Linked DNA regions of Homo sapiens: regions 1, 2, 3, 4 and 5 are each linked to region 6. The links come from fine-mapping of genetic effects on gene expression. A gene starts in region 6. Each other region holds a variant in brackets. All regions are shown on one strand. Distances are between the middles of the regions.

What was found.
Region 1: its variant is fine-mapped to the expression of ATPAF2 in sun-exposed skin (GTEx, PIP above 0.99).
Region 2: its variant is fine-mapped to the expression of ATPAF2 in fibroblasts (GTEx, PIP above 0.99).
Region 3: its variant is fine-mapped to the expression of ATPAF2 in whole blood (INTERVAL, PIP above 0.99).
Region 4: its variant is fine-mapped to the expression of ATPAF2 in skeletal muscle (FUSION, PIP 0.93).
Region 5: its variant is fine-mapped to the expression of ATPAF2 in whole blood (INTERVAL, PIP 0.92).

Annotation. Positions count from the first base shown.
Region 1 is chr17:18,015,544-18,020,626 of GRCh38, forward strand. It overlaps DRC3 (dynein regulatory complex subunit 3), which reads left to right. Exons shown (of 14, transcript NM_031294.4): 13 at 521-652; 14 at 1,015-1,346. The coding sequence ends at 1,128. It overlaps ATPAF2 (ATP synthase mitochondrial F1 complex assembly factor 2), which reads right to left. Exons shown (of 8, transcript NM_145691.4): 8 at 2,478-3,143. The coding sequence ends at 3,006. Among named protein-coding and RNA genes, the nearest start is that of ATPAF2, 21 kb to the right of the region's middle. RefSeq lists a silencer at 1,612-1,906. The variant C/T (reference allele first, on the strand shown) is at 3,138.
Region 2 is chr17:17,980,416-17,985,498 of GRCh38, forward strand. It overlaps DRC3 (dynein regulatory complex subunit 3), which reads left to right. Exons shown (of 14, transcript NM_031294.4): 4 at 3,413-3,529. All of the region lies in intron 2 of LOC107984989 (a long non-coding RNA gene), which reads right to left. It also overlaps the pseudogene BRI3P3. Among named protein-coding and RNA genes, the nearest start is that of DRC3, 10 kb to the left of the region's middle. RefSeq lists an enhancer at 641-1,141. The variant C/T (reference allele first, on the strand shown) is at 2,024.
Region 3 is chr17:18,119,002-18,124,001 of GRCh38, forward strand. It overlaps MYO15A (myosin XVA), which reads left to right. Exons shown (of 66, transcript NM_016239.4): 2 at 1-3,408. Among named protein-coding and RNA genes, the nearest start is that of MYO15A, 13 kb to the left of the region's middle. The variant C/T (reference allele first, on the strand shown) is at 2,361.
Region 4 is chr17:17,943,215-17,948,297 of GRCh38, forward strand. The region is part of intron 1 of TOM1L2 (target of myb1 like 2 membrane trafficking protein); the gene reads right to left. Among named protein-coding and RNA genes, the nearest start is that of TOM1L2, 27 kb to the right of the region's middle. The variant T/TAC (reference allele first, on the strand shown) is at 2,053.
Region 5 is chr17:17,915,083-17,920,165 of GRCh38, forward strand. The region is part of intron 1 of TOM1L2 (target of myb1 like 2 membrane trafficking protein); the gene reads right to left. Among named protein-coding and RNA genes, the nearest start is that of TOM1L2, 55 kb to the right of the region's middle. The variant C/T (reference allele first, on the strand shown) is at 2,230.
Region 6 is chr17:18,036,482-18,041,564 of GRCh38, forward strand. ATPAF2 (ATP synthase mitochondrial F1 complex assembly factor 2) reads right to left here and starts at 2,687. Exons shown (of 8, transcript NM_145691.4): 1 at 2,400-2,687. The coding sequence starts at 2,532. It overlaps GID4 (GID complex subunit 4 homolog), which reads left to right and starts at 2,927. Exons shown (of 6, transcript NM_024052.5): 1 at 2,927-3,421. The coding sequence starts at 2,984. RefSeq lists enhancers at 2,346-2,415, 2,426-2,475, 2,616-2,725, 3,876-3,935 and silencers at 2,836-2,925, 2,936-3,525.

The sequences.
Region 1 (5,083 bases), 21 kb before region 6:
ACTCCAAATGGAATCCAAAGTTTGGTTTTGTTGACATGAGTGGCAGTGGAGAGACAACTGTGGGGTGAACACCCATGAGTTTGTAGGGCCTGCTGTCTTCAGAGCAGCCTCGAGACCCTCAGCCAGCCTCATGCTTCCACCCAGCAGGCAGAGGTTTTGGGCAAGTTAGACTTGAGAGTAATTGAGAGAGAAGCATTGTGAGAACAGATGTCCTGGGTGAGGTGCCCCCTGGGCAGCCATCTGCCTTCACCCTGGAGGAAACATGCTTCCAGCGGGGACTGCAAAGTAACACCCTGGTTGGCCCTTTCCCCACAACACCTGCCCTGTGCAGTTGGGGAAGCGGCTGTCACAGATGAATTCACAGATGAATCGGCAGAGTGCGCTGATACAAAGGTGGGCTCTGCTCTGAGTGTGGCCTGCACAGCCAGGGGACTTCCAAATGCTCCTTCTCTGTTCAGCTCCCTTTGTGTTCACGGTATAATGACACACACTTTCTCATTGGATTCTTTTCACTCACCAGCTTTTTGTCGATAAAGATACGATTGTTAATGCTGTCGGGGCATCGCACGACATCCACCTCCTGAAGATTGACAATCGAGAAGATGAGCTGGTGACCAGAATCAACTCTTGGTGTACACGTTTAATAGACAGGGTGAGTCAATCCCAAGCCATCCTAGCAGGCTGGATGAACTTTTCTAGCTGACATGGAAATCCTCCCTAGGTAGTGGATAGAATTTTCATTAAGGAATGAAATGAAGGAAGAAATAAAATTAAGGATTATAGAATTCCACACTGAAGACAACATTGCCCAGAGACTTTAAAACCCATGGGCTTCATCATTTTCCTAATTCCTACCTCAAATATACAGAGATCAGCAGAACCTGGGGAGGCGCTGAAGCAAATGAGGTTTGCAGATCTAAAGGAACTATTTTCCCCTTCCCTCAAACTGGATTCAGTGAAAGATATTAACCAATGATCTGATGTAAGGAATCGGGCTTTGGTTTCACTCCTCAGATTCACAAGGATGAGATCATGAGGAACCGCAAGCGCGTGAAGGAGATCAATCAGTACATCGACCACATGCAGAGCGAACTGGACAACCTGGAATGTGGCGACATCCTAGACTAGATGAATGTCAGCCACAGGAGCTTCTTCAAAACATAGCACCAGCCCCAGCCAGGAGAAGGAAGTGCACACGCCTCACCCGCACCTCTAGAGAGTTGCTGGGCATCTCTCAACCGCGATCCCCAACACCATTCTTCCCCCACCCCTGGAAAAACTTCCAAAAGTAGAGAAAATAAAGGACTCATTTCACATTTCCCCTACTCATAAAAAAAAAAAAAAAATCAGCTGGGTGCGGTGGTTCACGTCTGTAATCCCAGCACTTTGGGAGGCCGAGGCATGCAGATCACGAGGTCAGGAGTTCGAGACCAGCCTGACCAACATGGTGAAACCTTGTCTCTACTAAAAATACAAAAATTAGCCAGATGTGGTAGCGTGCACCTGTAATCCCAGCTACTCAGGAGGCTGAGGCAGGAGAATCACTTGAACCTGGGAGGCGGAGGTTGCAGTGAGCCAAGATCGCACCACTGCACTCCAGCCTGGGCGACAGAGCGAGACTTCGTCTCAAAAAAAAAAAAAAAAAAAAAAAAAAAAAAAAAAAAATGTTCATGTAGGAACAAGAGAAAGAGTTTGAGATGAACAGCCGGTCCCAGGCCAGCTGACAGAGCAACTCCCAAGGGCACTGCCATCAGCTAGATTCTTGGCTGTGGCATAAAGTCAGACACGTGCCCCTGCCGTTTCCCCTGCCATGCCTAGGCAGGCTGCCAGCCACAGGCAAAAGGAGGCCGGTGTGGGCTAAGACCTTCTCTGCTCTGGGTGCTGAGGGGCAGGGAAGCAGGAGGAGAGGCTGCAGCTCCCACCACAGTGCTGGGGCCTGGGCCTGCCCACCAAGGCTGAGGTTAGCCACAAGGACCTGAGGACCCTCCAGAAGAGCAGAGTGCAGGCAGGGCATCCCAGCTCCACCATGTCACCCCCGCAGCCCTGGTGTCATCTGTGACAGTACCTCACAGTGCCTTCGAGGAACAGTTCAGGGAGACAGTGCATGGGAAGCGTGGAGAGGCACCCAGCATGCGATCAGTGCCCTGTGAGCAGGGTTGATGCCATTACCTTACTCAGGCTGGCAAGGACACAGGGCTGAGAGAGCCTGTCTGCCTGAGAACCACTCTTCCCCCCTGCCCTCTTACTGGCCTGACACCAGAAAGTAGCGCCTGCCTCCTGGGACACTAGAGGTGGCTATGTCAGGAGGACCCTTAGGACTCCTGGGTGGGAGATGAGCGGAAACATGCACATCAGGTGACCTTGTCAAGCCTGTCCAGGCTTTTAGCCCAGAAACAACTTCTATTTTCTACTTTCTAGAGTAAATCATTTGTTTTAGAACAGTAGGAACAAATAGAAACAACCAGCTTAGACCACAATTGTTTCAAAAGATTGTTTGATTAAAAGCCAGCCAAAAAAAAGCCTTCAGGCTGAGGCTGAAGAACACAAATAGAGTTGTCTGTGGATTACATGATTGTTTCCCCAGTGCAAGGTTCCTGACCACAGGCAGCAGATATCCAAACACGCCATGGGAGATAAGCTGTTTAACCCTCTGGAACCTAGACAAAACAGGAAGAATGGAGAAGTGCAGAGGCATACGTGAAAACAGGGCTCAGCACATTTCCAGGGTGGAGAAATATTTAATAAAATCAGAGTCGAGAGAAAGTCACTTGCACAATTCATCTCCTACATTCACTGCTGGCCAGGCCAGGGGCACCTGGGTTGAAATCAGGCTGACCTCCGGACAGCCGTACTAGCGCACTGTGTCTCGGGGGGAATCTCAGGGTGACGCTGAGGCCGAGTCCCCAAAAGCCAAGGAAGCCAGCCCCACAGGCTGGGGAGCCCTGAAGGCCGGGGGAGCTGTGGCTGCACTGCCTCTATCCTGCTGAGTGTGCTCTGCCCAGGCCTCACTCCTTCAGGAGCTTGTGCTTGACTGTGGTGCTCTCGGAGCAGAGATGGATGAAGAGGGTGCCGGCGGCGGTGCGGGCCCGCAGCTCCTGCAGCTCATAGTCATGGGCCCACTCAATGTTGCCCCACTT[C/T]TGGATCTGAGGGAAGGACAAGACAAGTTGCTGGGTGAGTGGCCAGTGCCTGGCTGCCTCCTGACCAAAGCCACGTTCCATTCCAATAGGTTGGCTGAGGGCAACAGGTTTGTATCTTGCCAAAACACATGAGACATGCCTAGGGGGAGGTGGCAGGTAAGAACACCCAGGTACGCCAGACACGGTGGCTCACGCCTGTAATCCCAGCACTCTGGGAGACCGAGGCAGGAAGACTGCTTGAATCCAGGAGTTCAAGACCAGCCTGGGCAAATATGGTGCAACCTCGCCTCTACAAAAAGGTTTAAAAATTAGCTGGGTGTGGTGGGGGTGCACCTGTAGTCCCAGCTATTTGAGAGACTGAGGTAGGAGGACTGCTTTGAGCCCAGGAGGCTGAAGCTGCAGTAAGCCAAGATCACACCGCTGCACTCCCACTTGGGCAACAGAGCAAGACCCTGTCTCAAAAACACCACACACACACACACACACACACACACACACACACACACCCCACCACCCCACCCCCAGGGAGCCGGAGCAGGCACCTGTGCTCTCTGTGGCATGGATGGTCTGGAAGAAGTGCAGTCCAGGCCCAGGCCCAGGGCCAGTGGCTGCCCACCCACCACTGGGCAGGCTGGGTACCAGAACCACCCATGTGACTTCTTTGAGGAGGCCTTATGTGCCATCCCTTCTCCTACACTTCCTCCCAGAAAGCCTGTGAATGGACAGCCTCTCCAAGTTGCCTTGCCATGCTGGGCTACAAGTGCCCCCCAGCGCCATGTGGGTGGAATAACTAAATCAAGTAAGGCCACGCAGTGGCTTCAACTCTGACTCTTGTGGTAGTCACAGAACTACAGATGCCTCTGCTCTGCACACTGGGGACAAGTTGCAGATTCTCTGTCTGGAGCTCTAAAAACAAGAGGGAGGAACGCTCAGACACACGATGTGGCTGTCCAGACAGTGTAAGTCCAACCAAACCTTGCTGGCTCCTCCCTGGCTAGTTGCCCAAGAGGCCTGGCCTGGCCGCCCCAGCTCATCCAGGAACTCAGAATCCACCATGCTACACAAGCTATTTGAACTTCTGGGCTGCCTGGTCCCAAACTGTACAATTGTAATATGTCATCTGAAGAGTATTCCATACTTTCATTGTATACCATCACATACATAATTCAGGTTATTCCTCTGTTTGTAGAGGATCGAAACCAAAGTTCAGAGAATGATGGCCTGGCTTGGGTCCCATAGTCAGAAGCAGAGCCCAGACTGGCTTCCCACCAGCCCTACAAGTCACCCCCTTCCTATGTAATCAGTTCTGACATCCAGAGAATAGTAGCGGGCCTCCTTTGTTATACAAAAATAGTTTTTTCCCTGGCATTTTTCTGAGCAGAAGACTACAAGAACTAGGGAAATACATCACAAAAAGTTTTGTGTTTTTTTGTTTGTTTGTTTTTACCATATTAGGGACCAATTCATAATAGCAATTAACCTTCTGAGGTTGGTGGAATAACAATAAAAAGACTGCAAAGATGGCTATAATTTTCAGAGTTAAAAAATGCAAACCATACTGTGGCAAAACCTTAATTCTGAGCCCACTAAATCAAAACTTGTATACAAACAGCAGCTACCCCTATGCTCCTCTGCCAGCCAGATAAAATGTCAGGGTATGAAGGCTCAGCTGATGAAGGAGCACAAACGGGTTCTCAGTCATCTTGGCAGGGCCTGTTCTGCAGGCTTTATCAAGCCCAGATGGTCTTTATCCACCCGTGAACCTCCTTGTGCAGAGTGAGGCCTGACGGCCTTGGCCCTAAAATCACCAGACCTGGCTTCAAACCCCAGCTGGCACATTTTCCAGAGGTGCAACCTTGCACCTCCATTTCCTTCTGTGTAAAACAGAGATAACCACAGCTCCTACCTGCCCAGGCTGCTGAGAGGAGGTGAGATGGATACAATGC
Region 2 (5,083 bases), 56 kb before region 6:
TCCCAAGTAGCTGGAACTACAGGCATATGCGGCCACGCCTGGCTAATTTTTTTTATTTTAGTAGAGATGGGGTTTCACCATGTTGCCCAGGCTGGTTTCGAACTCCTGAGCTCAGGCAATCTGCCTGCCTCAGGCTCCCAAAGTGCTAGGATTATAGGTATGAGCCACTGCGCCCAGCATTTTTTTTTTTTTTTTTTTGAGATGGAGTCTCACTCTGTCGCCAGGCTAGAGTGCAGTGGCACGATCTAGGCTCACTGCAACCTTCACCTCCCGGGTTCAAGTGATTCTCTTGCCTCAGCCTCCAGAGTAGCTGGGACTACAGGTGTACACCACCACACCCAGTGAATTTCTGTATTTTTAGTAGAGACGGGGTTTCACCATGTTGGCCAAGATGGTCTCGATCTCTTGACCTCGTGATCTGCCCACCTCGGCCTCCCAAAGTGCTGGGATTACACGTGTGAGCCACCGCACCTAGCCACTAATTTGTATTTGTATTTTTTATTTTTTTGGCATGAATCTCATTTATTGAAAACATTATATTTCACCTTTCTCAAATTGAAGACTGCAAAAAATAAAAGCAGTGCTTTACTGAGTTCTCATTAACCTCAGGAGCAGCAGCGCTGCCTCTCCACGCTCCAGGAAACCCTGGCTCCCGCGTGCCACATCTGTCGCACCTCACTTTACAAAACAGTCCTGAAGCTTAATCAAATAAAACTATTGTACATTAGAAAAAGAGAGCTGGGTGTAGAAAAGCCAGGTGTAAGTTCCCTTTAAGCAAAGGCTGCTCTGCAGTTGGGGCATCTTTGCTTCCTCCAGGAAAAACAGCAGATGAACCCAAAGGGGAACAGGATGATGGCCAGGAGGATTCCCAGGAAGGTGAAGCAGTCCTCCAGCACCCTATCCCTGCAGACGGGACAGCCTCTCATGATGGCGATGGCATTGGCAGGGTACCAAGTGATAGTCCAGCTGTGGTCATTGTAGACCCTGGGGTGGTGGTTGGGTATCCCTGTGATGAGGTAAGGGGAGGGCGGGCAGCAGCAAGGGATGGGCAGCAGGGATGACGCTGTAGCCATGCAAGCTGCATGCATAGTTGCCCTGGCCGGCCCCTAGGTTGTAGGTGGGCAGCCACTCCCACAGCAGGGGCGTGTGGTCCATGGCAGCCCGGCTCAGGTCAGTCGGTCCTGGCAGGGGACACAGTGGGGGACGTGGCAGGGATGCAGCAGACTGGCTGGCTCAGGCTCCTCTGAGGCACAATGCCTCAGCACCGATTTTTATTTTTTTTTATTTATTTATTTATTTAGAGACAGAGTCTTGCTTTGTCACCCAGGCTGCAGTGCAGTGGCATGATCTTGGCTCACTGCATCTCTGCCTCCTGGGTTCAAGTGATTCTGCTGCCTCAGCCTCCTGAGTAGCTGGGACTACAGGGACACCAGCTAATTTTTGTATTTTTATTATAGAGACAGTGTTTTTCCATGTTGGCCAGGCTGGTCTCAAACTCCTGGTCTCAAGCAATCCACCGGCCTTGGCCTCCCAAAGTGCTGGGATTACAGGTGTGTGCCACCATGCCCAGCCACAGGACCAAATTTTTTTTTTTTTTTAAACAGTCTCACTCTGTCATCCAGGCTGGAGTTCAGTGGCGTAATCTAGGCTCACTGCAACCTCTGCCTCCTGGGTTCAAGCGATTCTCCTGCCTCAGCCTCCAGAGTAGCTGGGATTACAAGCGCGTGTCACCACGCCCAACTAATTTTTGTATTTTTAGTAGAGACAGGGTTTCACCATGTTGGCCAGGATGGTCTCCATCTCTTTTTTTTTTTTTTTGAGATGGAGTCTCGCTCTGTCGCCCAGGCTGGAGTTCAGTGGCGCAATCTCGGCTCACTGAAAGCTCCGCCTCCTGGGTTCACGCCATTCTCCTGCCTCAGCCTCCCGAGTAGCTGGGACTACAGGTGCCCGCCACCACGCCCAGCTAATTTTTTGTGTTTTTAGGAGAGACAGGGTTTCACTGTGTTAGCCAGGATGGTCTCCA[C/T]CTCCTCACCTCCTGATCTGCCTACCTTGGCCTCCCAAAGTGCTGGGATTACAGGCGTGAGCCACCACGCCTGGCCCACAGCACCAATTTTGAAAACTTCTTTCACTTCTGTATTATTTCAGTTCTTTTAATGAGCATATTCTTTTTTTTTTTTTTTTTGAGATGGAGTCTCGCTCTGTCACCTGGATTGCAGTGGCGCGATCTTGGCTCACTGCAACCTCTGCCTCCCTGGTTCAAGCGATTCTCCTGCCTCAGCCTCCCAAGTAGCTGGGACTACAGACGTGCACCACCACGCCCAGCCAATTTTTTGTATCTTTAGCAGAGACAGGGTTTCACCACATTGGCCAGGATGGTCTCGATCTCTTGAACTTGTGATCCGCCCGCCTCGGCCTCCCAAAGTGCTGTGATTACAGGCGTGAGCCACTGCGCCCATCCTTAATGAGCATATTCTAATTTTATAAATTTTAGAAATCATTACAAAAGCAAATATGGAAAAAAGGAGCATATAAACAACAGAGCTGTACGTGGCTTCTGGGAAAACCTGGCAGACAAGTTTGGCCTCTAGAGTGTTACATATACAGTACATATTTACTTATACATATGTGTTTTTCAGAACTCTCCTGGCTGCCAGTGACAGAAACCAAACTCTGGCTTACCTAGCAAACAGAATGAACCAGCTGTGTAGCTGGCGTGGGTGGTCCTCACAGGCCACAGGGGCCAGGCACTTCCGTGATATCAGGAACCTGCCTCGTTCTTGCATGGATGACTTATCTCATCCCCTACGTATGGACATTTGGGAGCTTTTCTGCCCCTTACGTGCCTGAGGGATTCCTTTGGACATATATACAGTGTGGAGATAGATTCCATGTAGAGAAATTATAGTTCAAAGGGCACTGACTTTAAATATTTCAAAAAACATTGCCAAACAGTGCTCCAAAAAGGCTGAATGAGGCAATCAACCCTCCTACCAACAGAGACACATGTTTTCATTCTATTTATCACACTGTGGAAGGAAGGCCTCTGTCTGTGTCCTGTGTCCTAAGGTGGACCAGCCTCCTGGAGAGTCCCTGGCCTGGCCCCAGAAACAGCACAAGCGAGTCTCCTGCCCAGCCAGGTCCAGCTCACTTCCACCCCAGCAACTTTTTAGCTCCACCCTAGTAAACCTATTAGGTCTTTCTGTGGCTCTGGGTGGCAGTACCGATCCCCGCCCACCTCATAGGGACACAATGTTCCTCGATGCTCAGCCGACATCTCCAGGGTGCCTGCGTACTCCAGGGCAGGGCAGAAGAGTTCTAGGTCCCTTTTGTGTGGTTCTGCCTCACTCCTCCTGTACACTAGCACAAAACTCTGACCCTAACCTGAGACTGAAATCACCTTCCATTATTTCAGACATCCTCCGCATAGACAACCTCTGGCAGTTTGAGAACTTGAGGAAGCTGCAGCTGGACAATAACATCATTGAGAAGATCGAGGGCCTGGAGAACCTCGCACACCTGGTCTGGCTGGGTAAGGCCCTTTCCTCTGTGTGTCCACCCTAATCGAAGGTGACACCCTGACAAGGTTATTGCCTTCCCAGGAGACAATAATTGTGTGCGACACTCAGCTGCTGGCCCATCATTAGCCAGGGTACGGCAGAAGCTCTGCCTGCTGGGAGCAAGAAAGCTGCTATTTTTTAAAAGCCTAGGGCTTGTGCTGGGCAAAGTGCAGCAAAGATGTGCTCAGACACAAGACCACAGAATATTCTGCTCTCATCTGCCCAAACTTTCAGTCTGGATGGGGTACAAAGGGGCAGCTGTGGACTCCTATTTAATCTAGACTCAGGCTGACAGATAACCATCGACAGGTAACCATTGGCTGGTGGGACCCAGATGAAACCAGGAATAATCGTCACAGAGGCTAGTGTGTATCAAGCACTTAACTACATGCTAAGTGGGGCCTATATGCTTTCCATATGGGTCTTTCAGTTCACACAGCATCCCCGTCATAGAGATGAGCAAACTGAGGTCACCACACCACATCAGGTCTCACTGCCAAGGCCATGGAGGGTTTTGATGAGATGTTCCTTCTGCTGGCCTCTTAGGAGCATCCTCACATCTGGTGAGGGGCAATGGGTCCCTAGCAGGGAGAAGGTGATGGGCCTGAGAGCTCCTTATGCCCTGTCTTGTTTAACCCCCATTTTAATCCTAAGAGTTGGGCATCTGTTATAATCCCAATCTACAGAAGAGGAGCTGAGACTCAGGGAGCCCCAGGCACTTGCCCAAAGCTGCACGACCAAGAAGTATCAGAGCTGGGACTCACCCCCACGCCTGTCTGACCTCACAGCCCACATTCCCTCCATCCTATTAGGCGGTCTTCTGGTAATAAGGGCACCCTGGGGCATCGTGAGCCTTCCAATTTGCCAAACACTCCCATCCTCCTTTGTGCTGACAATTGCAAGCCCATAGCAAACCCACAGGCAGGGTTATGCTGCCATTTCACACATGCAGCAACTGAGGCTCAGGGAGGCTGACCAGCTTGATGGAGTCATGTGCTACAGGTAGCAGGAGCAAACCACAGCCAGGTCCTCTCACACCTGGGCCCAGGTCTCTTGTCCCAGGTTTCTCATTTCTCTGCACTCTAGCACCCATTAATGCTGATTCATGAATGCCATGGTTTTAAGCAGGAGCTCTCTGGCCTGGCTGTCTCTCAGACATAAAGCAAGTACCACTGAGCCCCATGACAGCTCCCTCTTTCTGTCTGCTTACCCAGAGAGAAACCTGAATACTGGTCTTGGTTCCCTCCCTAACAGAAGCTTATTTTCCTACTACTTGGAGCCCCTGCACACACACTTCCTAGTCAGCTCATTCCCCCAACCCCTTGCAGTGGCCATCCACGCTTCCAAGGGTCATTGGACTGATGGCCAGTGCTCCCTGGGATGGGGGTGCTAGAGCAGTGAGGGCAGGCTCTGTTAAGAGGTCACACTGCCCCTCAGAGTATAGGCAGAAGCTGGTCTTTGTCCAGCCATGGCACTAGGTGCCCAGGGACCCAACCACAGCCAGAAGAGCTGGATCCCTGGGGTGC
Region 3 (5,000 bases), 82 kb after region 6:
CAGAAGACCAAGCGCAAGAGGAAGGCCCGCACCGTGCTCAAGTCCACGTCAAAGCTCATGACGCAGATGCGCATGGGCAAGAAGAAGCGGGCGATGAAGGGCAAGAAGCCGTCCTTCATGGTGATCCGCTTCCCAGGCCGCCGTGGCTACGGCCGCCTGCGGCCGCGCGCCCGGTCACTCAGCAAAGCGTCCACGGCCATCAACTGGCTCACAAAAAAGTTCCTCCTCAAGAAGGCCGAGGAGTCGGGCAGCGAACAGGCCACAGTGGACGCCTGGCTGCAGCGCTCGAGCTCCCGCATGGGCTCCCGCAAACTCCCCTTCCCGTCGGGTGCCGAGATCCTGCGGCCTGGGGGCCGGCTCCGGAGGTTCCCCCGCAGCCGCAGCATCTACGCGTCAGGCGAGCCCCTGGGCTTCCTGCCCTTCGAGGACGAGGCCCCATTCCATCACTCGGGCTCCCGCAAGTCGCTGTACGGGCTTGAGGGCTTCCAGGACCTGGGCGAGTATTATGACTATCACCGCGACGGCGACGACTACTACGACCGGCAGTCACTCCACCGCTACGAGGAGCAGGAACCCTACCTGGCGGGCCTCGGCCCCTACAGCCCGGCCTGGCCACCCTACGGCGACCACTACTACGGGTACCCGCCCGAGGATCCCTACGACTACTACCACCCCGACTATTACGGTGGCCCCTTTGATCCGGGGTACACCTACGGCTACGGCTACGACGATTACGAACCCCCATATGCGCCCCCGTCGGGGTACTCGTCTCCTTACAGCTACCACGATGGGTACGAGGGCGAGGCGCACCCTTATGGCTACTACCTGGATCCCTATGCGCCGTACGACGCGCCATACCCACCCTATGACCTCCCATACCACACTCCCTACGATGTACCCTACTTTGATCCCTACGGAGTCCACTACACCGTCCCCTATGCCGAAGGCGTCTATGGCGGTGGGGACGAGGCCATCTACCCCCCCGAGGTGCCCTATTTTTACCCGGAGGAGTCGGCTTCGGCCTTTGTGTACCCCTGGGTACCACCGCCCATCCCGTCGCCCCACAACCCGTATGCCCACGCCATGGATGACATCGCCGAGCTGGAGGAACCAGAGGACGCGGGCGTAGAGCGTCAGGGGACCTCCTTCCGCCTGCCCAGCGCCGCCTTCTTCGAGCAGCAAGGCATGGATAAGCCCGCCAGGTCCAAGCTGTCCCTCATCCGCAAGTTCCGCCTCTTCCCGCGACCCCAGGTGAAGCTGTTTGGGAAGGAGAAGCTGGAGGTGCCCCTGCCACCCTCTCTGGACATTCCTCTCCCCTTGGGGGATGCGGACGAAGAAGAGGACGAGGAGGAGCTGCCCCCGGTTTCCGCTGTGCCCTACGGCCACCCTTTCTGGGGCTTCCTCACGCCGCGCCAGCGCAACCTCCAGCGCGCGCTGTCGGCCTTCGGCGCCCACCGGGGCCTGGGCTTCGGCCCTGAGTTTGGCCGCCCCGTGCCTCGCCCTGCCACCTCGCTTGCGCGGTTCCTCAAGAAGACGCTGTCGGAGAAGAAGCCCATCGCGCGGCTCAGGGGCAGCCAGAAGGCCCGGGCGGGCGGCCCTGCTGTCAGGGAGGCGGCCTACAAACGCTTCGGCTACAAGCTGGCTGGCATGGACCCCGAGAAGCCCGGCACGCCCATCGTGCTGAGGAGGGCCCAGCCACGCGCTCGCAGCAGCAACGACGCGCGCCGCCCGCCCGCGCCACAGCCCGCGCCCAGGACCCTCTCCCACTGGAGCGCGCTCCTGTCTCCGCCCGTGCCCCCGCGGCCCCCAAGCTCCGGGCCCCCGCCCGCGCCGCCGCTCTCCCCGGCGCTCTCGGGCCTGCCCCGGCCGGCCTCGCCCTACGGCTCCCTCCGCCGCCACCCGCCGCCCTGGGCCGCCCCAGCGCACGTGCCACCGGCGCCGCAGGCCAGCTGGTGGGCCTTCGTGGAGCCCCCTGCCGTGAGCCCGGAGGTGCCCCCCGACCTACTAGCCTTCCCAGGGCCCCGACCCTCGTTCAGGGGCTCCCGCCGGAGAGGGGCGGCTTTCGGCTTCCCCGGGGCCTCTCCACGGGCGTCGCGGAGGCGAGCTTGGTCACCGCTGGCCTCGCCCCAGCCCTCGCTGAGGAGCTCGCCGGGCCTCGGCTACTGCTCACCCTTGGCGCCCCCGTCGCCTCAGCTGTCCTTGCGCACGGGCCCCTTCCAGCCGCCCTTCCTGCCCCCGGCCCGCCGGCCCCGCTCGCTGCAGGAGTCCCCAGCCCCACGCCGAGCCGCTGGGCGCCTGGGCCCACCCGGCTCGCCGCTGCCGGGCTCACCCAGGCCGCCCTCGCCGCCCCTGGGGCTCTG[C/T]CACAGCCCGCGGCGCAGCTCCCTGAATCTGCCCTCGCGCCTCCCGCACACGTGGCGGCGCCTCAGCGAGCCACCCACTCGGGCTGTGAAGCCGCAAGTGCGCCTGCCCTTCCACCGACCGCCCAGGGCCGGGGCCTGGCGGGCGCCCCTGGAACACCGGGAGAGCCCGCGAGAACCCGAGGACTCAGAGACGCCCTGGACTGTGCCCCCACTGGCCCCCAGCTGGGACGTGGACATGCCTCCCACCCAACGCCCACCCTCCCCCTGGCCAGGAGGTGCAGGCAGCCGCCGAGGCTTTTCCAGGCCACCCCCTGTGCCGGAAAACCCCTTTCTCCAGCTCCTGGGCCCTGTGCCATCCCCCACCCTCCAGCCTGAGGATCCAGCTGCTGATATGACCAGGGTCTTCCTGGGCAGACACCATGAGCCGGGGCCTGGACAGCTCACCAAATCAGCTGGCCCAACCCCTGAGAAGCCTGAAGAAGAGGCCACCCTGGGGGACCCCCAGCTGCCAGCAGAGACCAAGCCTCCAACCCCAGCACCTCCCAAGGATGTCACTCCCCCCAAGGATATCACTCCCCCCAAGGATGTCCTCCCAGAGCAAAAGACATTAAGGCCCAGCCTCTCATACCCACTGGCTGCGTGTGACCAGACCAGGGCCACATGGCCACCATGGCACCGCTGGGGAACACTGCCCCAAGCCGCAGCCCCCTTGGCGCCCATCAGGGCCCCAGAGCCCCTGCCCAAGGGGGGTGAACGGCGCCAGGCAGCCCCTGGGCGTTTTGCTGTGGTCATGCCTCGTGTGCAGAAGCTGAGCTCTTTCCAGCGAGTTGGGCCTGCAACCCTGAAGCCTCAAGTCCAGCCCATTCAGGACCCCAAGCCAAGAGCCTGTAGTCTTCGCTGGTCCTGCCTCTGGCTTCGGGCAGATGCCTATGGACCCTGGCCACGAGTACACACCCATCCCCAGTCCTGCCACCTGGGCCCTGGAGCTGCCTGCCTGTCCCTTAGGGGCTCCTGGGAGGAGGTCGGCCCGCCAAGCTGGCGGAACAAGGTATGGAGGCACAGATTACACGGAGGGTTTGAGGGTTCTGGCCTAGGAAACAGGGCAAGAGAGACAGCCTGAGGAGCCCTGTGCAACCTTGGAGAGAGGCTGCTTGCTGGGGCCTCAGTCTCTGGGTCTGTAAGTTGGGGAGAACAGCCTGGACCTCCCAGAACCTCTGGAGGGTTGAACAAGGGGATGCCCAGCACAGGCAGGCCCAGGACAGAGACGTGGGAAACTGCTTCCAGGTCACTCTGGGGAAGGATCTTTGTTCATATTCGGCTTGGGCCCTGGGCAGCCCTGCCCTGATCCAATCTGGATGACAGGTCTGGCCCCTAACTTCCCCTCAGAGATTTTGGCCAAGCCAGATGTGAAACTGCCGGACATGCCTATCCATCCTGTTCCACCGCACATCCAGGTCTCTGCAGTTCCTCCTGCCTCCTACTGACCCTCCCCCAAATTAAAGCCTCCTGTTTCCTCAGGGTTTTTGCTGCCCTTTGAAGTCCCCTGGGCTGCAGGATTCTGGAATAGGTCAGGGTGAGGGGCTCAGGATCCAAACTTCCAGACTCCTCATTGCACAGAGGGAAAACTGAACCAGGAGTCCTTCTGGAACCCCATGAGGGGTGCAGGGTAGGCAGCCCTTCGGATGGGTGCCCAGCCCATGCCTGGCTGCCACACTCAAGGTGGAACTCGAGCCTGATGCTGGGTGGCCCTTGGCTGAGGTGCGTGGTCACCGGAGCCTCTCTCAGGATGCCGGGGTGGTGGGCGGGGCAAGCAGGGGCAGCAGGTGCGTCTCAGCCTCTGCAGACCATGCCTGGCGGAGCAGGCAGCCAGCCGGGCCCAACAATGGCAACCGGGGCAGCCTGGCTGCTGAGGGGGCCCTGGCCCCGGCGGCGGATGCCCCGCGCTGTGTGGGCTGCAGCGTTGCGGGAGCGGGGCGCAGGGCGTCTAGGGGTGAGGGGCAAGGATGCCTGGGTCCTCCTTACCCTGGAATACGTGAGTGGCTGAATTATTCAGGGTCTGCGGCTGCTGGCAAGCACGTGGGCAGATGGGTGGGCCGGAGGCCAGGGCCGAAAGGGTGATACTCGCTGTGCCCTACTTAGCAGTCCAGCGACAGGCATGCAGGGTTCCTTCCTGGTGTCCTCTTTCCTCGCCTGCTCAGGGTGCAGCTGGGATTGGAAAGGCTGAGGGTGTACACGTGTGTGCTCCCAGTCATGTGGATCCTGCGCAGGCCTGCATGCCTGAGCATGTGTGCAAGTGTGTACCACAGCCAAATGACGAAAGCTAGTGTATGGGGTCTGAGCAGATGTGGCATCCCTGGGGGTCAGGGTTGTTTGCCCACCCTCTGCCCATGTGCACAGACGTGTGCTCACAGAGGAGACCCTGCAGCCCAAAGGTGGCATCAGGACTTCCATTCACCAGACCCCCAGCATAGGGAGGGACCCAGCTGTGCGCCCACATGTATGTGCCAAGTGGACAGGTAGAGCATGTGCCTGCACACCGTGTGCCTCCAGCCGGGCCCCACAGGCCTGCGTATGTGCCCACAGGCCTACAGGAACACCTGTGTGCCTGGGAGTTGTATGAGCTGTAAATGCCATTGAGTG
Region 4 (5,083 bases), 93 kb before region 6:
AACTGGGGTATGTTCTGTCCCCAAATTCTGAGTCCTCTCCAATCCACTGTAACAGTCACTTTAAAAAACCCTTTCTTCTTTCCATCTTGATATGGGTCCAAAGTGCTGCTAATTAGAGCTAGGGAGTTAGGAAGGCAAAGCAGTCTCTATAGGGGTCAGATAGTGGCAGACCAGCCTGCTGCTGGGGTGCGACAGAGGGCTGAATCCTGCTGCCTGGAGAGTGCAGAAAAGGCCTCAGCAAGGTAACAACACTTGGGTATGGAGAGAATGTGGATGATCCAAAAGAGAATGTAGGAATGTGAAGGCAAAGGAGAGAAGGAGCAGCCAGTGCAAATGCATGGAAAGGGGAGCCCGAAGGCTGAGCTGCCTCCAGATCTCTCTTGGGGATTGCTGCTGCAGCCTCCTCATTGTTATCACTTCCTCCACTCTCTCTTTCCATAGTCTACACTCCACACTGCCCCAGGTGGTCTGCACCAAACAGAAAATCTGATCTCATCTTCCCCCTAAGTATTAAAAACCTCCCAGATCTCCCCACTTCACTTCAGATAAGGTCTACACTCCTCAACCTGATCCTCAGGGTGACTATCTCTAACCAGCCCTGACTTCCACTTCCTACCCCTTGCCAGGGCCCCACGTGAACATCCAGAGCCCAAGGTCTAGCTGCCACAAACATACAGGCCCCTTTTCTCCAATGTTCTCTCTTCCTTGCACATCCCTCCCCCTCCAGGTAAACTCCTACCAGAGAGCAGCTCAGATGTCACCTCCTTTGTGAAGGCAGTCCTTACTCTGCCCCTCTCAGTGCATGCTGCTACATTATCAGAGCACCCCCACACTGCACTTGAGGGTCTTCCTCTGGATGAGAAGGTGGGCTCTAGGGCAGGGAGAGGCAGCAGACAAGGTGATCAATACAAGGTGCTTATTAACACTACTAGCGACATAAATAATGCAGCCCCCGGATAGGCAGGCAGGGGTTGTGCAAGCCATCATGGTGCCTGGCACAAAGTGGCTGCCGTGAGAGGCTGCCTGGTGAGTGGACAGGTGAGGACGGCAGGATGCTGAGCAAAGGGATGCTGAGCAGAGGGCTCCTTCCTGACCTTGGCTGAGGCAGCCTTGCTGCGGTGCCCTTCATGAGTCTGTAAGCTCACGGCTGCAGGAGGCTAATTCAGTGCCTAAAAATGCTGTAACAGTTTCTTTGAAAGGTTCCAGACAAATGGAAAATGACACCGACAGCTTGACGCTCCCTTCACCTCCATGGCTGCAAACCTAAAGAATATTTATGATCCGTGGGATCAGAGATTTGGTGTCTTAGAAGCAAAGAAAGGTCACAAGACAAACTAACGCAGACCATCTGCTCTTGGGTGGGGAAAGAGATTCCCATATTTGGAGTTATTCTCCCCAAAGCACCAGGCACCTGCTTCTCTTGTGAAAATCTATGAGCTAACACAATGATTTTTATTTAACATAGTATAAAACCAACGTCTCCTACAAGGAGAGGTGAAAAGCTGAACACAAACATGCCGACTAACAGGGAGCTATGGAAGCCTTCCGGCGGGGAAACAGGAGGTCCGCACTTGTGCTCTCCATATTAAATGCTTAGCGACAAGGCCTAACAGAGGAGAACAAATGCTCCCAGAGATGTCTGCCTGATGGCAATGGAGAAAAACTCATCTGGGGCTAGTACTAGTGGAGCTCCCCTCCTCCTCCATTTTTCATAGGCCGGATGCTCCTGCAATTCCCAACACCGTACTCCTGACATTGCAGCAGATGCTGCCCGCACTGCCGCCGCCACACTAATCCTTCATCCTCCGGGGCCAATGGAAATGTAGGATTTCCCATTAATCAGGGCCGTGGACACCAAAATAGCTCATCTGACCTTTGCAAATACCAAAGGGTGGATTTAAAGCAGAAACTGGCAAAAGGTAATGCAAAAGTCTTTAGCTTTCTTTTCAGAGATGATTTTATGCAGTCATTAGCTAAGAAACAGATTGCCAGTAGGACCAACAAGGTTAAAAATTAGGTGGAAAGAGCCAAATGTTTCACCACACACACACA[T/TAC]ACACACACACACACACACACACACTCTCTCTCTCTCTCTCTCTCATTCCTTGATGAATTATTTAACTTACATTAAAAATATATATATGGCTCAGAAATCTCTTGGCATTGGCACTGGATTGAAAACAGTGTCAAACTGGGAAGTAGCTGTTCTCTGAGAGAACACTTATACATCAAAACAAACATGGATTTCAATGTGCAATACCAGGTGGACTTCATCAGACAATACAGACCACAGATCTGCTATTGATGAAAAGATAGACCCTCTCTTAGGGAGACCCACATTACATAGGATGAAACTTCATTAAACTTCCTTATCACATACATACCCATCTTCTCTCTATTTACAGCCTATACATCTTAGTTAATCATTGATATTTTGTGAGCAAAAGTGACCTTAATATTTCACGGAGACTTTCTCTGCATAGCTATAATTCAGCACCACATAAAACTGGATCTTAAGTATCTTAATGAAATGTAGGACTCTTTCCATTTAAAAAAAGAGAAAAAGTAATTATAGAAAACTGGAAGAAAAAAGAAGAAAAGCTAGTCACATAAGTCTGCCACCACCCTAATTCAATCTTTTTTCTTTTTTTATTTTTTAAAAAAGATGTCTATTTTTGAGACAAGGTCTCAGTGTCACCCAGGCTGGAGTGCAGTGGCACAATCATGGCTCACTGCAGTCTCAACCTCCCGGGCTCAGGTGATCCTCCCACCTCAGCCTCATGAGTAGCTGGGACTACTGGGGTGCACCATCACGCCTGCCTGGCTAAATTTTTCATATTTTTTGGTAAGACGGGGTTTCATCATGTTGGAGACCAGGCTGGTCTCCAACCCCTGGGCTCCAGCAATCTGCCTGCCTCAGCCTCCGAAAGTGCTGGGATTATAGGAATAAACCACCGCACCCTGCCGTAATTCAATTTTGTATAAGAGCTTTATTGAGATATAATTTACATACCATGAAATCTACCCTCTTGAAGTGTACAATTCAGTGGCATTAGTACATATATTCACAGAGTTGTGCAACCATCACCACTATGTAACTCTAGAATATATTCATCATCCTAAAAATAAATCCTGTACCTGTTAGCAGTCACTTCCCATTCCCCCTCTCCCAGCCTCCTACAACCACTAATCTGCCTTTTCTCTATATAGATGTGTCTATTCTGAACATTTCTTATAAATGCAATCATACAATATATAGCTGTTTGTGTCTGGCTTCTTTCATGAAACATAATATTTTTACCCAATTCTATTTTTTATTAGCACTTTGTTAGGTTTCTTTCCCATCTCGATTCTGATATATTTAAAACTTAATCCTTTGCTAACATTATAAAGTTAAGTCTGTTTTTTGCTAAACCACAAGTTACTGACCCTAAGCTAGGCTCATGGGTGCAGAGGCTGCAGGAGGCCTGTTTTGCTCTCTAAACATCAGCTCATTATATTGGTCTAAGTATTGATCTAATTTTTTTTTTTAAGACAGAGTCTCACTCTATCGCCCAGGCTGGAGCGCAATGGCACAATCTTGGCTCACTGCAACCTCTGCCTCCTGGGTTCAAGCCATTCTCCTGCCTCAGCCTCCCAAGCAGCTGGGACTACAGGGATGTGCCACCACGCCTGGCTAATTTTTGTATTTTTAGTAGAAATGGAGTTTTACCACGTTGGCCAGGCTGGTCTCGAGCTCCTGACCTCAAGTGATCAGCCCTCCTCAGCCTCCCAAAGTGCTGGGATTACAGGCGTACGCCACCGTGCCAGCCTAAGTGTTGATCTAATTTTAACAGAAGTGCCTCAGGGTTAGGAAAGTACTAACTAGTTATACCAGCCCTCAGGACAATCCCACACAGTAAATACAATCTTCAGCAAGGAACAGGAAAGAACACTAGAACTGGGATTTAAATAGGAAGAGCTACTACCATCCAGTGAGCTTTTCAGTTTTATACGGTGGGGGGGTCTCACTATATTGCCCATGCTGGTCTTGAACTCCTGGGCTCAAGTGATCCTGCTGCCTCAGCCTCCCAAAGTGCTGGGATTATAGACATGAGCCACCGTGCCCAGGCCAGTGAGCTTTCTGTTTTGCAAATATTGTAGGCTAAATTGTGCCATCCTCAAGTTCTCATGTTGAAGCCCTAAGCACCAGTACCTCACAATATGACTGATTGAATTTGGAGACAGGGTCTTTAAAGAAGTGATTAAGTTAAAATGGGGCCCTAATCCAATCATGCATGCACAGAGGAATGACCATGTGAGGACACAGCAAGACAGTAGCTGTTGGCAAGCCACGGAAAGAGGCTTCTGAAGAAGCCAAACCTGCAGCTTGATCTTGGATTTTCAGCCTCCAGAACTATGAGAAAATAAGTTCGGTTAAGCCTTCCAGTCTGTGGTATTTTGTTATGGTAGCCCTAGCAAACGTCTCATTTAATGCCCCGACACATACTTTTAAAAATAGGACTTCTATCCTCATTTTACAGATGAGGAAGCTCAGGCTCAAAGAGGTTACTGGAGCTGGGACTCAAAGTGAAGTCTGATTTTGAAGATTTTGTTCTTTCCAGAAAGTACAACAAGTTGTATTCATTTTTAATTTCTTTTGGTAGCATGAGGGGTCACACTGTTAAAATAAAGAAAAATCTTTGTTCTATTTTTTTTTAAATATATACTCTTTCCAGAATATACCTGGTTACAGTCCAAATTCAGAATCCACTCATTTCAGAAATACTTTTGATGGAGGAAAAGAAAATTAATGAGTCAAGTGCTTTACATGCATTATCCAATTTGAACATTAAACAATTCTAAGAGATATATATTAGTCATAATTGAGGAAACTAAGGCTCAGAGACATTAAATGACTGTATCATGATACAATGTTTGTCTTTCATTAAGTTCCTTAGTCAAATAGTTTCATTTTGAAAGACCAAGTGTACTAAATTCTGTTTATCAACCTTTCACTGAGACTTGCTGTACTGGATAATCTTGATACCAAGATAAATACGCCCTAGTCCCTACCTTGGAGAGAGTGTCAAGTACAGCTGGGGAG
Region 5 (5,083 bases), 120 kb before region 6:
AGTAAAACAAGGATACTTCCAGCCTGTACAGAGGTCTTCTATGTTATTATCTGAGTATCGGCGAAGTGTGGATTGTATTAAACTTTTATTAAAATAGTGGTGATGGTATCCTTTCATGAATTGAGAGTTAGGATGGGGTAGTTTCAGAATTCCTCCAAGATATTAACTTCAGATCCAAACTCAGGCTTTGCTAGCAGGTGAGACTATATCATGCAAACATCCAGGCTTTAGAGACAGAACTAGGATCAAATATTGGTACCACCAATTCAATGATGGGATCCTGGCTTACCAGGTGTGAAGTGGTATCCCAGTGTGGTTTTGTTTTGTATTTCTCTAATGACTACTGATGTTGAGCATTTTTTCATGTGCTTTTTGGCCATTTGTATATCTTCTTTGGAGACATATCTATTCAATTTTTTTGGCCCCTCACCCCTTTTTTTTAAGAGACAGGATCTCACTTTGTCACCTAGAATGGAGTGCAGTGGCCCAATCATAGCAGCATAGCTCATTGCAACCTTGAAATCCTGGTCTCAAGCAATCCTCCCACCTCAGCCTCCCAAGTAGCTGGGACTTCAGGGATGCACCACCACAACTAGATAATTTTCTTTAAAAAAATTTATGTAGAGATGGGGTCTTGCTATGTTACCCAGGCTGATCTTGAACGCCTGGCCTCAAGTGATCCTCTTGCCTTGGCCCCCCAAAGTACTAGGATCACAGGCATGAGCCACAATGCTTGGCTCCATTTTTAAACTGAGTAGGTTTTTTTTTTTTTTTTTGGTTGTTAAGCTGTAAGAGTTCTTTATATATTCTGAATATTAATCCCGCCTATTTTATGGTTGTCTTTTCACTCTCTTGATTGTATCTTTTAATGCACAAAAGTTTTAAATTTTGATTGTCCCATTTATCTATTTTTTCTTTTGTTGCCTGTGGTTTTGGTACCATATCTCAGAAATCTTTGCTAAATCCAATGTCATGATTTCCCCTTTTTAAGATTTTTTTTTTTTTTTTTGAGATGGAGTCTTGCGCTGTCACCCAGGCTGGAGTGCAGTGGCGCGATCTCAGCTCACTGCAAGCTCTACCTCCTGGGTTCACGCCCTTCTCCTGCCTCAGCCTCCTGAGTAGCTGAGACTACAGGCGCCCACCACTATGCCAGGCTAATTTTTTGTATTTTTAGTAGAGACGGGGTTTCACTGTGTTAGCCAGGATGGTCTCGATCTCCTGACCTCGTGATCTGCCTGCCTTGGCCTCCCAAAGTGCTGGGATTACAGGCATGAATCACCGCGCCCGGCCTATTTTAAGATTTTTATAGTTTTCCCTTCGCTCTTATGTTTAGGTCTTTGGTCTGTTTGGGGTTCATTTTTGCATATGGTATAAGATAATGGTCCGACTTCACTCTTTTGCATGTGGATATTCAGTTTTCCCAGCACCATTTGTTGAAAAGACTGTCCTTTCCCCTCTAAATACTTTTGGCACCCTTGCTGAAAATCAATTGACCATATACGGGAGAGTTTATTTCTGAGTTCTCTACTTTATTCCATTGGTCCATGTGTCTTTCCTTATTCCAATACCATGATGTTGTGATTATTATAGTTTTGAAGTAAGTTTTGAAATCAGGAAGTGTGAGTCCTCCAACTTTGTTCTTTTTAAAGGTTGTTTAGGGCCAGGCGCAGTGGCTCACGCCTGTAATCCCGATACTTTGGGAGGCCGAGGTGAGTGGATCTCATGAGGTTAGGAGTTTGACACCAGTCTGGTCAACACAGTGAAACCCTGTCTCTACTAAAAATACAAAAATTAGCCAGGCACAGTGGCTCACACCTGTAATCCCAGCATTTTGGGAGGCCGAGGCAGGTGGATCACGAGGTCAAGAGATTGAGACCATCCTGGCCAACCAACATGGTGAAACCCCATCTCTACTAAAAATACATAAATTAGCTGGGCGCAGGGGCACACACCTATAGTCCCAGCTACTCCGGAGGCTGAGGCAGGAGAGTCACTTGAACTCAGCAGGCAGAGGTTGCAATGAGCCGAGATCACGCCACTGCACTCCAGCCTGGGAGACAGAGTGAAACTCCATCTAAAAAAATTAAAAAATTTAAAAAATTAGCTGGGCGTGGTGGCGCACACCTGTTGTCCCAGGTGCTTGGGAGGCTGAGCCAGGAGAATCACTCGAACCTGGGAGGCAGAGGTTGCAAAATGAGCCAAAATCACATCACTGCACTCCAGCCTGGG[C/T]GACAGAGCAAGACCCCATCTCAAAAAAATAAATAAAAATAAATAAAAATTAAAGGTTGTTTGGCTATTTGGGGTCCCTTGAGATTTCATGTGAATTTTAGGATGGATTTTTCTATTTCTGAAAAAAATACCATTGGTCTTTTTTTTTTTTTTTTTTTTTTTTTTTTTTCAGAGACAGGGTCTTGCTATGTTGCCCAGTCTGGACTCAAACTCCTGGGCTCAAGCAATCCTCCCATCTTAGCCTTCCAAGTAGCTGGGAATACATGTGCATGCCACCATGCCTGGCTTCATTGCAATTTTAACTGGGATTTCATTACATCTGTAGATCACTTTGGGTAGTGTTGTCATCTTAAAAATATTAGCTTCCCAGGCCAGCTCATGCCTGTAAATCCCATCACTTTGGGAGGCCAAGGTGGGAAGACTGCTTGAGCTCAGGAGTTTAAGAACAGCCTGGGCAACATAAGGAGACCCCATCCCTACAAAAAATTTAAAAATTAGCCAGGAGTGGTGGCTTACACCTGTCATTTCATCTACTCAGGAGGCTAAGGTGGGAGGATGACTTGAGCCCGGGAGGTCAAGGCTGCACTGAGCCGTAATTGAGCCACTGCACTCCAACCTGGGCAACACAATGAGGCTGCCTTAAAAAAAAACTGTCTTCCCATCTATGAACACAGGATGTTTTTCCATATATTTATGTCTTCTTTCTTCTTTAATTTCTTTCAGCAACGTTTTATAGTTTTCGGTGCACAATTTTTTGCTGCCTTGGTTAATTCCTAGGTATTTTATTTTTTTAGAGGCTAGTGTAAATGGAATTGTTTTCTTTTCTTTTCAGATTGTTCATTGTTAATGTATATTAACAGAAACACAACTGATTTTTGAATGTTGATTTTGTATCCTGCAGCTTTGGTAAATTTATGTTATTCGCTCTAGCAGTTTTTCTTTTTTTTTTTGTTTTGTGGTATCTTCAAGGTTTTCTACATGTAAAGTCATGTCATCAGGGAACAGAGATAATTTTACTCCTTCCTTTCCCATTGAGATGCCTTTTATTTCTTTTTCTTCCCTAACTGCTCTGGCTACAATTTCCAATACCATGTTGAATAGAAGTGGTGAAAGGCAGCATCGTTGCGCCTATATATATTTTTACAAAACACAGTCATACACCATGAGAGCAAACAAAGCTGAAGAGAAGACCCATTTGAGTCCTTATTCCATAAAAAATTGCAAGAGGGTGAAAACAGGAACCATAACAGGATCTGCAGGTCTTTGCAAGCCCTGAGAAAGTCACCTCAGACTTCTGTCTGGAAAGCCTTCTCTCCAGCCTATCTGCCCATATCTAGCTCCCATCCAACGTCCTCTCCAGAACCTTCTTTGCTGCCGCCCACAAGAGAGGCCCTCTGATGGGCTCCAGCACCTGATAGTACAGTTCACACAAGGACTGAGCCTTCAAGACCATTCTAATGTTCTGAGAACTTTTTCAAATCTTACCGGCTTAATGAGCCGTTAAGTATCTTCTTGGCCCCCAACCCCAACCTAAACTGGAAGCTGCTTGGAGGCAGGACATCTTCATGTCAAGAAGGCCTGGCTTTATGCTGATGAGGGCCCTTTATAAGTAAAATGATGATTATAAACCCTTCTGAGGCCCCCAGGTGACAGGCACTGGGCAGTCTGGTGAGATGAGAGCTCGGTTCCCAGCTGTCCCCGGTTCTCCCTTCAGACTTAGAAGCAGGAGAAATGTGCATTATAATGGAGTCTAGAACAGGGAGTGTGAACTCAGATTTTGGTGAGTTCTAGTTCTGCCAATTACTGTGTGACTACAGGCAATAACTTGACCTCTCCAAGCCTTTTGGACTGCTGCAAAATGCTGCAATAACAGCACTCTCTCACACAGTGGCTGTTAGAGGAGACTAAATAATACAGAAAACACCTGACAGAGCCTCTAATACAGAGGACCTTTCCTTGCTGTTACTTCTAACTTTATTACAGCTCTTCTGAAAGGAGCTCTGCCAGTGCCCTCCCCTTGCACCCCCCTCCTCTCCCATTCCCGTGTCACCACTGCCACCTACAGGTAAACAGCCATCCACAAGCTACACCCATCAGATTCAAAACCCTGGGAGCTCTAGCTTTCTGGATTTCTGGGTTACTGAGCCAGGAAGACCTCCATGCTTCCAGAAGGAAGCCCCCAAACTTGGCTTGCCCCACCTGTAGGGTAAAGGAGCAGGCACACCACAATTTCCTTAAGAATCCAAGCATTAAAACTCCAAGAGGTCTTAGAGACCATCTAGTAAAAAGATTCCCCATAAGTCCACATTTCCTGGACCCCAGGAAGTGGGGCATGGGGGAGGAGGGGCCACGGTGTTGTTGCAAGTTCCCTATGGGCAGTTTCTTGCCCTTAAAGCTACCATTGAACCACTGGTCTCAAGTCTTCAAGGAAATGGCTCTCATTCTTTTCACCAAAAAAATGGAGAAACAGAAGAGAGAATGAAAACCTGTTTATTTGGTTTGAGCCAGGTTCTTGACAGACATTACCTCATTTAACCCTACCATCCCACGCCCCAGCCGCCAGGAAGGTTCTCTCTCTCTAATAGGAAGAAAATGAAGCCTGGTGGGGTGACTAGCCCCACAGTGTGCAGAGAGGAGGTAGCAATACTGCCAACCACATGACCCAGGTCTTCCTGGTAAGCCTGGCCTTGGACCCTGATCCATCCTCAGGTAGAGGGTCACAGAGGCAAAGAAGACCCTGGCCTCCACAATAGACGGTCCAGAGTATTGGATGCAGCCCACCCTCCTGATTTTTAGGTGAAGTCTAAAGACCCTCCTGATTTTTAGGTGAAGTCTTAAGTGTAAAAGAGAGTGC
Region 6 (5,083 bases):
AGGAGAATGGCGTGAACCCGGGAGGCGGAGCTTACAGTGAGCCAAGATTGCGCCACTGCACTCCAGCCTGGGTGACAGTGCAAGACTCTGTCTCAAAAAAAAAAAAAAGCATGCATGGGCCTGATTTATGCACCTCCCTTCTCATTCATTCATTCCTATTTTCTTTCACATTTGACTACCTACCATGTGCCAGGTACTTCCAAGAGCCTAACTAGTAAGTTTAGGCTTTTTAAAAAGGAAAAGAAGGCAGTAGATCAAGTGCCACCATTATGTAAAGTGAGCATCCACAAATCTAAATTAACCCTTTGTGGTCAGGCATGGTGGCTCACGCCTGTAATCCCAGCATTTGGGAGGCTGAGGCGGGAGGATCACCTGAGGTCAGGAGTTCATGACCAGTGTGGCCAACATGGTGAAACCCCATCTCTACTAAAAATACAAAATTAGCCACGTGTGGTGGCGGACACCTGTAATCCCAGCTACTTGGGAGGCTGAGGCAGGAGAATTGCTTGAATCTGGGAGGTAGAGGTTGCAGTGAGCCAAGATCACACCATTGCATGCCAGCCTGGGTGACAAGTGTAAAACTCCATCTCAAAATAAATAAATAAATACGTAAATAAATAAATTAATTAACCCTTTGCTTTTTGCCAACTTGGTGAACTCCTGAATGTGTCCCCTTTGCTATGCCTCCCTGGGATGCCCTTCCTTTCTCTTCTTTACTGGCCCTTCATGGCCCATTTCCAGGCCCTTCCCCTGAGTCCTGCAGGTGAAACTTCAGCTCCCTGCTGCATCCAGCCCCCTTCCCCATTTCTATAAAGTTATAGAACTTGGCTGGGCGCGGTGGCTCACGCCTGTAATCCCAGCACTTTGGGAGGCCGAGGTGGGCGGGTCACAAAGTCAGGAGTTCGAGACCAGCCTAGTCAATATAAACCCCATCTCTACTAAAAATACAAAAATTAGCAGGGCATGGTGGCAGACGCCTGTAGTCCCACCTACTTGGGAGGCTGAGACCACAAAATCGCTTGAATCTGGGAGGCGGAGGTTGCAGTGAGCCGAGATGGTGCCACTGCACTCCAGCCTCTGTGACAGAGGAGACTCCGTCTCAAAAAAACACAAAAAAACAGAAGAAGAAGAAAAAAAAAGAACTTGACAGCCAGAAAGATCCTCAAAGGCAACCTAGTACTTCAACGCATGGAGAAAAATGAGGAAGTAGTTGCATGCCCAAGATCACACAGACCTCAGAGGTTCAGCCAGCATCAGATCCTAGATTTGCACTCCTGCCACAATGCCAAACTGCCTGTGAAGTTCTGGATTTTCTAAAACAGGCAGTGTCAGGGAAAAGTCCCTCATACCTTGCTGTCACCCTGGACACGTTCTAGATACCCAACACTCTCCCACCTTTTTGCTGAACTCCTACTCATCTATCATGGCTCAGCTTAAACAAACGCCCTTTCACCCAAGACCCATTCTAAACCCTGAACATCCCCAAGATGGGAGTAAGCGATTCTCTGTGTTCTCACAGTTTCTTTGTATGTCCCTTATCAGGATATTATAAACCACAATTTAATCAGAATATTATAACCTTTTGCAATGAACAGTGAACATCATTCAGGTGGGCCTTTTTCTTCTTTAATTGAGCTTCTCTACCAATACATACAGGTGGGTCTTAAAGACAACCGTGCCTCCTGCCTCCAGCACAATAAAACTAATTGAATGGTGGGAGGGTGTTACTGCTCTTCATTCACTGAAATGAGTCATTCTCACTCTTACCCTGACACCACTCACCATCAGCAATGAAAGAGCCACTACTTCTAAGCTTCATCAGAGTTGGAGGTGGAGGTGACTCCACAGTCAGAGGTGGAGGTGTCAATTTCTATTTAGGAGAGAAGGCTGCAGATGGCAGAGGTTGTGGTAGGAGGGAAAGTCAGGAAACCTGCAGCAGAAGTGCCCGGGATGGAGGAATGAAGGCCCAGGTTCTAGGTCCCTTCTGGGCAGGTCTTGTGTTGGGCAGTGGAGACACGGAAAACAGTCAGACAGACACCACAAACCTCTGAGAGAGTCTGCCTGTAACCCAGACGAAGTCCTGATTCAGAGCCCAAACTTCCCCTTTTGAAAACAAAGATGACACCTGCTTTCCTTATTAAAGGGAGGGCAGCCATAAGCTTTGAGAAAACCTGCACAGGCCAAATATCAATTACTGTATCGTGCGTGACTCGCTGTTCCCTCTCGGGTCGTCTGCCCTTGTCTGGGCTTCACTTTCTCATCTGTAAAAAGACCTGACTGGCCTGCATAACCTCATGAGCCTGAACCCTGCCTCAGTTACTTCGCTTTGCACAGCCGAAGCCCGAAGCCCACCTTACCCCAGCTCGGCCCCAACCCAAAAGAACATGTCATGGTCTTACCTGTCGGCGGGGCGTAAGCCCGGGCTGGAGACGGGATGGTTGGCCCCGGACTCATAGAAGCGCTGGGGCCACCCGCCGGCCGATTCAGGAGACGGCGTCCCCCGTCCCGCAGCCGGAGGCAGCTCCTCCACATCGCGCCCGAGGGTCTGGGAAGATGCGAGACGCGAAACCTGGAGCAGGAAACACAGAGCGATGGGATCCCCAAAGCCGCACGGTCGGGCTGTACGGAAACCTCTCAACGCCTCCTCAGAGCCCTCAACCTCCCTTGGACGCCGCCATCTTCCGCATGACACCTACGGCGCGCCGTCGCCGCCGCGCGCCTCCTGCGCACACCCCCAGTCAATCAGCATCACAAACGCACCTCGCCCCGCCCCCTCCACGCCGCGCCTCGGCGAGGAGACTACAAGTCCCAGCGGGCCGCTCGCGCACCGCGCCACGTGTTTTCTCCTCCCGCCAATGGGCGGAAGCGCCGCCTGAGCCTGCTCCCGCCCCCCAGGCTCGCCTGAGCCAATCGGAAGGGGCGGGGTGTGTGTGTGTCTGTGTGTGTTTGTGTGTTGTGTGTCTGTGAGTGTCTGTGTGTGTGTATGTGTGCGCGAGGGCAAGTCGGGAGGGGGACCCAGCTCAGGACTGGGAGGCCCTGCTCGCAGGTCCCTGGGTCCCGGTGGCGGCCGGAGCGCTTGCTCCGCAGGCAGCGGGCGGGTGGTCGCCCCTCCCGCCCCCACCCCGCGCGTGCGCGCCCCGGCCTCTCCCTCCCCGCCACCCTCCTCGGCTCCCGCGCGGCGGCGGCGGTTCCTCTCCCACTCCCCCCAGCCCTGGCTCCGGGGGACCCCGCGATGCCGGTCCGCACCGAGTGTCCCCCGCCGGCCGGTGCCTCCGCTGCCTCCGCGGCCTCACTCATCCCGCCGCCGCCCATCAACACCCAGCAGCCCGGCGTGGCCACCAGCCTGCTCTACAGCGGCTCCAAGTTCCGCGGCCACCAGAAGAGCAAGGGGAACTCGTACGACGTAGAGGTGGTGCTGCAGGTGAGCGCCGGGCCGGGCCGGGGCCCGAGGGCCTCCTCGCGGCGCTCACGGGCCGTGCCCGCTTCGGCTCCTCGACCCCGCAGCCGCGGAACAGGCCCTCGCCGCCGGGGCCTCCTGCACCCGGCGCTTCCCACCCGGGACCTTCCCAGCCTGTGTCTCACACTCTCCGAGCCCCAGCCCTGACCTGCCCCTTCGGACCCAGAGCCCGTCGTGACCGGCTCCTGGCGGACCCCGAACACTCCCAGACTTGAAGCCCGTGACCGGCCCGTCTGGGATCCGGAAGCCCCTCATGACTCGGAGAAGGCCTGGGTCCTTCCTCCCCATGACCTGTCGTCCCTAGATCAGGGACTGCCACCAGCCCTTTTCAGACCCTGAAGAACTCTCCATTGGTTTCACCAGACTTGGGACCCTCCCCATGTCTGGGCCCACGTCAGATTCTCTCAGACCTGAGACATGTCCTCCTGCCCCTTCCTCAGTTCCAGGAATCCGCAGACCTTGGGGTCTTCCTCCTCCTGAGATCTCCTTAGGAGGGCTTCATCAGACCCCCAGACGGGGGAGCACCTAACCCGCAACTGATTGGTCAGGCCCTGGCCTCACCTCAAGACCAGGCACTCACTCCCTGAGTGCTGCTCACAGTCTGTTGGGATGTTGCCTCCTGGGTCCCCTGTTCCACTCACTGCTTCTGTCTCTTCATGGTCCAGGCACCCAGCTCCTTCCAGCTTCTCCACCCCCAGGCCTCCTGCCCCTGCTCTGGGACCATTTGCAGTCTTTTCCCAGTCTTCCTGGCCTCTATCCAGACTTCCCCACCCCATACCTTCGTCTTGCTCGATCCTGGTTCCAGGGGACCCTCTTTCCTGTTCTTAACTTTTCTCTACACAGGCACAGGGCTTCCTCTTAGTCTCTGGTACCCATGTACTGGGAAATCTAACTCACCCAATTTTAGTTCATGTCCAGTCGCCTCCCCCCATTTGACCTGGATTCCTGAATACCTGCTGCCAGTCCCTGATCAGCTTCGGAAGTACAGCTTCACTTGTCTGGGCCTTTCCCACACCTCACTCCTCTCAGGCTTGACACTTTTTGCCAGCTGAAATGGAGTGGCAGTGGTGAATACTCTTTTATCTCCCCTCCCCACAAAACTCTTCCTCCTCTATACCTACCCCTGCCTGACTAAGGACCCCTTTCCCCTTCCCTTTGCCCTTTTTTTCCTTAGTCTGACACCTCATCTGCCAGGCTGTTCCCAGAAGCCCCTCCAAACACCTGTCCCTCTGAAAGGCACTGTGTGCTGCCCCACTGCCTCCCCCCCGCCCCACCCCCCGGGGTGTGAGGGTGGAATGTACAGTATATTTATTCCTCAAGCTCTCCTTTTGGTCATTTAAAACAAATCTTAGTTTCACTTCTGAAGAGTAGGTCTCCCATCCAAAAGACAATGAGGGTGCCTTTTCTTTCTGCTAACTGCGGAGCACTCATCACTCTTTTATTCTCATACTGCTTTGTGGGAATAAATCATTTTCTCTGCTTACTTGAAACAGCATCGTCATGTTAATCATATCTTTGGGCTGTAAAGTTCTATCATGAGCCACGATAGTTATTATAATGGAAATACGATTGTGGCTGAAATATTTTTGTCTTCATAACTGTATGCCTAATGTAGTGATCCTCTTC